Regions from separate parts of the Homo sapiens genome. Here region 1 is linked to region 2. A link means that fine-mapping ties the variant in region 2 to the plasma level of a protein whose gene starts in the linked region. Region 2 holds a variant in brackets. A gene starts in the other region. All regions are shown on their reverse strands.

Region 1 (2,904 bases), not on the chromosome of region 2:
TTGCCCCACAGTCTGGCCAGCCAGCCTCTCCCTTGGGCTGCAGCTGGCTCTGGAGGGGGGCTTTTAAAAAAGCAGATGGGTGATTTGGGACAGGAAGTGGAGTAGCAGAGTGAGGGGGAGAGTCATGGCAGGAAAAAAACATTGACTCTGGGCACTCTTATTCTGAGCCTTTCAGCCCGAAGTGGGGCAGGGGACTGGAGAACAGAAGGGACAGGGTTGACAGGATATTATTGACAGGGTATTATTCTGGAAAGTGAGGAGTCCTGGAGGAAAGAGACTGAAAGGACTTGTAGTCCCCTCCCCCAGACTAAGATAAAGGCTAGAATCCTGAAAAGTGATCTCATCACACAGAGCCTGAGCTTGGGGAAGAGGTGGGCAGGGGGTCACTGCCTTCCCTTTCTAGAGTCCCTTCCTCTACTTCCACAGGGGAATCTGGGAAGAATGGGGTCCTGGCTTTCCGCTCCCATTGTTTTTTTGGTTTTTGGTTTTTGGATTTTTTTTTTTTTTTTTTTTTTGGATACAGTCTTGCTCTGTCACCCAGGCTAGAGTGCAGTGGTGCAATCGCGGCTCATTGCAGTCTCTGCCTCCTGGGTTCAAGTAATTATCCTGCCTCAGCTTCCCGAGTAGCTGGGATTACAGGTGCGGACCACCACATCTGGATAATTTTTGTATTTTTAGTGGAGATGGGTTTTGCCATGTTGGCCAGGCTGGTCTTGAACTCCTGGCCTCAGGTGATCTGCTCACCTCGGCATCCCAAAGTGCTGGGATTACAGGTGTGAGCCACCGTGCCTGGCCAGAGCTCCCAGCGTTTACAGCCATTAGGAGCTGAAGGTTGGGTCCCTTTGCAAGACTTTCCACCACCACCACCACCTCTCACAATTCTCCAGGTTTGTAGGAACCCGGCCAGTTTAATCAAGCAGGTACTGAGGGGCCAGCCACTCGCAGGCTTTTGGTCAACTGTCAGATCCAAGGAAGGGGCTCAGCAGAGGTTTACATACCCTAGGACCAAGAAGGGGGCAAACTGGAGCAGAATCCTCCTGATGAATGACCCCAAACTCCTGGGTTTTCAATACTAGCAAGCTTGGAGGAGGAAGCAGCGGAACTTGAGGAGCCCGTGTAGGTCCTCTAGCAAGCTGACTGCGAACGCTGTCTCTGTACCTCAACTGTTGTGTCCCAAATCCAGCTGGCCAGAACCCAGGCACCCGGCGGCCCCGGAAGGCAAGGGGGAATCCCAGTTGGCCGGACGCCAGAGGAGTCTCCTGTCTCTTTAGACCCCAAAGTCTCCTCCCTAAAGCACTGAGGGAGACCCCACACACATATACAGGCTTCCTCCGCCCACCAGAGGTGATTCCTTTCCTCATTAGGAAATTCTCCGCTCCCTTTTCCGACTCGTTTTCCGAGCGTTTACGTTGTACATCTGGAAAGGAATGGGGAGGAAGGAGGGGGAAGCAGAGAGGAGGGGGAAGAACCCAAACCCGCCCAGTCTAACCCAGTCCAGACAACCGGCTTCCAGCTGGGGCTGGGGAAAGGGGGTTGGAGGGGTGCGCCCCCCCCCCACGCCCCTTAGGGGTGGGGGACGCGGGCTCAGAGTTCCAGGGACCCAGGAATGCCCCCCCGCCAGCCCCCTCGGCAGGCGGGGGGAGGGCTCAGCCGGGAGTTTGGCAAACTCCTCCCCGCGTTGAGTCATTCGCCTCTGGGAGGTTTAGGAAGCGGCTCCGGGTCGGTGGCCCCAGGACAGGGAAGAGCGGGCGCTATGGGGAGCCGGACGCCAGAGTCCCCTCTCCACGCCGTGCAGCTGCGCTGGGGCCCCCGGCGCCGACCCCCGCTGCTGCCGCTGCTGTTGCTGCTGCTGCCGCCGCCACCCAGGGTCGGGGGCTTCAACTTAGACGCGGAGGCCCCAGCAGTACTCTCGGGGCCCCCGGGCTCCTTCTTCGGATTCTCAGTGGAGTTTTACCGGCCGGGAACAGACGGGTGAGTGAGGAGGGCTGGAGACGGGATGGGGGTGGGGGAGCCGCCTGGAGACTGGGGGCGCGGCTGGGGTCTGGAGGGGACCAGGGCTTAAGTTTGAGGGTGGAGTTTGTAAGGAATAGAGCTGCAGTTGGGGGCCCTGGCTAGAGTTGGGGGCCCGCGCTGGAGTAGGGAGGGCACCGTGGCGGGTGAGGAGGGGCCCTGGCGTTTGAGATCAGTGGGGAGACATGTGTCCGGTGGGGAGAGGACACGGAGCTGGAGAAGTCTGGGCAGGGGTCTCCGGGCCAAGGGAGAGGAGAGCGCGTGAATGGAGAGCTGAGGGTCTCTGGCTGAAGTCTGTGGGCTGCTGGGACCTGGGGCGGGTGGGGGCGCAGAGGGGGCGCAGAGGCCGGGAAGGGCTTTTGGGGGCTCCAGGAGACCTCGGGATCCGTAGGGGCCATTGTGCGGCGAGAGAACGGGTAGAAGCCGAATGAGCTACGTGTAGTAGGAGGAAAGTCAAAGACTGAGGGGGTCGGAAGGTTAAATGGGGGCCAGCCTCATCCTCCCCTCCCCCCTCAACTCAGACCGGGGAAAGACCCGAGAGAGGACGGCGGCTCCCTCTCCTTTCTCCTCTGTCTCCTACTCCTCCCTCCGCCCCCAATCTCTGTTCAGGCGAGGGGATCCGAGAACTGGGGGCGAGTGCGGGGACCCTGGCACTGGGGCCCTGGGGCTGGGGGCGAACTCAGCCAAGGGCGGGTGCTGGGATGTGTCGGGAGGGGTGTGTGCGCGCGTGAAGGGGGGTGGGCGGTTTCCCTCTTCCTCTGGCTCTTGGGAGGAAGAGAAAAGCTGGTTTCCTGTAGCTGGTCGGCTGGAGCTGTGCTGAGACCGGGACTTCTGGGGCTGGGGTCGGAAGCTGGGGAGACGGGGGCTCCGTGGGGCCAAGAACGTCAGAATGAA
Region 2 (2,904 bases):
TCATCAATGGAACTTTAAAAAGTTTCTCACTCACCCACCTGTTTCCTAAACAGATCAGTGCATTGTTGATGACATCACTTACAATGTGAACGACACATTCCACAAGCGTCATGAAGAGGGGCACATGCTGAACTGTACATGCTTCGGTCAGGGTCGGGGCAGGTGGAAGTGTGATCCCGTCGGTGAGTAGCCCTATTTCCCTAGATGAGTTTGCACAGGGGGAATGGTTAGCAAGTTTCAGATAAGAAAAGCTATGTGAAATCACATGACTGAAGTTGGCTCCAGACTTTGATCAGTTGCTTGCAAAGAACTTTGCAAAGTCTTCTCTCTAATACTGGACCAAAATATCTCGATATTGGTAGTCGTCTGGTTTTTGCTGAATTTGGTGACAAATTTAGGCTTATTTTAATTGAATGGAATTTATTCTTGGGTTTAGAATCATAAAGATAATCCATGCTATTAAAAGTATTCTTTCCTTTTTTTTTTGTTTGTTTTTGTTTTTGTTTTTGTTTTTTTGAGAGAGAGTTTCGCTCTTGTTGCCCAGGCTGGAGTGTATGGCACAATCTCGGCTCACTGCAACCTCTGCTTCCTGGGTTCAAGCAATTCTGCTGCCTCAGCCTCCTGAGTAGCTGGGATTACAGGCATGCGCCACCAGGCCCAGCTAATTTTGTATCTTTAGTAGAGATGGGGTTTCTCCATGTGGGTCAGGCTGGTCTCAAACTCACTTCCTTACCAGCTGTGTAACAGCATGAGCAAAGGGTGTAAATATCACCCACCAAAACACTCTAGGTTTTTTTTTGGCCGCCCTTCAAAATAGAACTAAGCAAATAGTGAAGGCTGAGCCTTAAAAGAGCTGTGTTACCAGCACTACAAAGTTTAAGGTGATCCATTACTATTTCTTTACCAAAAGAGACAGGTTGCTCACTGAGAAAACAAACTGATAACATCCGTTTGTTTGACGTGAGATTACCAGAACTGAGAGAGAAGCCTGAGAGGTTTTCTTAGAAGCTGCTCAGCAGGTATACTCGTAAAGTCTAGTTCATTCATTTAAATGTCAAACAGTTTCTTTAAATTTTGAAGAAGTAAGGAAAATGAAATTATTGCAGATTTTTTTCTTGCTATTTAAATGTTAAGCCAGTTATATTAATATGGGTAAAAATAATAACTAATATTTAAAATTAATGTGTAGATTATCAATATACACTGAAATCTAAATCTTTACATTTTTATTTAGAAATATTACCTTTTAGAAAACTAAATATTCCTCCTAATAGGTACTTTGGTTTTTTTTTTACTACAAACTGTCCTGTAAGGTAAAGAATGTGAACAAAATATTTTTTTAACTGCATATATTTGTAAGAACAATTGCAAATTTCTATTTAAGCTAAATGTATGCTCTAGCACCCTGAAATTAAATTCGTAGTTATAAGTCTTCAAGGCTGTTTATCTTTTCCTTCCATGTATTTTAGACCAATGCCAGGATTCAGAGACTGGGACGTTTTATCAAATTGGAGATTCATGGGAGAAGTATGTGCATGGTGTCAGATACCAGTGCTACTGCTATGGCC[G/A]TGGCATTGGGGAGTGGCATTGCCAACCTTTACAGACCTATCCAAGTAAGTAGCTCTATTACTGCAAGTTGAGAACTGCCAATTGGGTTATAACAACAGGGCAGTGATTATTAATGCTCTCATGCCTAAGTTGGGGGTCTCCCCTCTTTCCCACCCTTTTCTCTTGTTATTATCTAATAATCAATTGAATTTTTGATTAAAATAATTTTTCTCTCTTCCTCTATCAAGTAAAAGGTAGAGAAGGCTATGAAAATGTGCCTGTTTATAATTTTACTTCTTAACTCTGTAAAATATTCTGTTAGGTTAAGACACTCTGGCTAATTTCATCTTATATCCATACATGGAAATAAAAACCACCAAGTGAGTTATGCTGGGAGTAAAGGTTTGGGGCTTTATATTATGATTCTTAACAGAGAAGCTGCATAGAGAGATGGCATGAAATGCAGCATAAGGTACGTGTTCATTCAACATGTCATCTAAGCTCCCTTTGCATCAAACTTTTCATTTGTTTGATCAGTTGCCACCAGGAACACAGTATGTTGGGCCAAGGGTTGAGTAACTTGGTCAACTCTCTGCCCACACAGTTCAAACACTCTCAAATGTTTATTGCTGGGTTTTTCCAGGTCACAAAGACATCATGCCTAGCTGTAGGTGTAATTAGTTCATTTGGGGGGAAAATTGCATTTAAATATTCACTGAGTGATTATAATAAAACATGTTAATAAAACATGAAAGGCTAATTAAAAGGCATCAGTTATTTGAGCAACTGCTGAGGTGCAAAGTCTCCAAAGTCTTCACTAACGTTTGACTGAAAATATGGCCTACATTCAGAAACAAAAGAGTTTCAGGGTGTCAGAATCTGCATGCGACAGAAATTAAGATTAACTCTGTGATAAAAGATTCACTGTGACAGAGAACAAGCTATGGGAACAACTTGGCCAAAGGTAGTGTTAGCCAAGCCTCATTCCTCCATTTCCTCATCTGTAATATGGGAAGATTGTAGCTGATTACCTTTAATGTTCCATCCTAAATACTAAACACCCAGATGCACCTTTTCTAGGAACTTGGAAGATTCTGCTTTTCCCAACCCTCAGACACTGTCAGTGCTGGGGAAGGTGACTTCACTTTTGAAGGCTTATAGCACAGATTGACCAACCTCCTAAATTGTATTTCTTGGAGGATTTAGGTGTAGGAATCACTTAATTTTTTGTAACTTAATATATATTTAAATCTGATTGTGGAAGTACTATAAGTATATGAATGGTTTGTTTGTTTATATGATGCAAATGATACTTAAATGGTAGAAACTTCTAAAAAAATGCTCTGTGGTTTCTAT

Alleles and levels. Alleles are on the strand shown, and positions count from the first base shown. The strength of an association depends on the size of the effect and on how common the allele is.
In carriers of allele G in region 2, the plasma level of the protein whose gene starts at base 1,686 in region 1 tends to be higher than with A alone (weak association).

The links. PIP is the chance, under the fine-mapping model, that this variant and not a neighbour inherited with it causes the effect. Protein levels are from antibody-based Olink assays in UK Biobank. Linkage for the fine-mapping came from a reference panel and not from the study's own genotypes, which makes the PIPs less certain.
Region 1: ITGA5 starts here. The variant in region 2 is fine-mapped to the plasma level of the ITGA5 protein (UK Biobank, PIP above 0.99).

The regions. Positions count from the first base shown.
Region 1 is chr12:54,418,048-54,420,951 of GRCh38, reverse strand. ITGA5 (integrin subunit alpha 5) reads left to right here and starts at 1,686. Exons shown (of 30, transcript NM_002205.5): 1 at 1,686-1,971. The coding sequence starts at 1,754. All of the region lies in intron 2 of GPR84-AS1 (GPR84, ZNF385A, ITGA5 and GTSF1 antisense RNA 1), which reads right to left.
Region 2 is chr2:215,417,951-215,420,854 of GRCh38, reverse strand. FN1 (fibronectin 1) reads left to right here. Exons shown (of 46, transcript NM_212482.4): 11 at 54-182; 12 at 1,470-1,613. Among named protein-coding and RNA genes, the nearest start is that of FN1-DT, 16 kb to the left of the region's middle. RefSeq lists a silencer at 15-309. The variant G/A (reference allele first, on the strand shown) is at 1,569.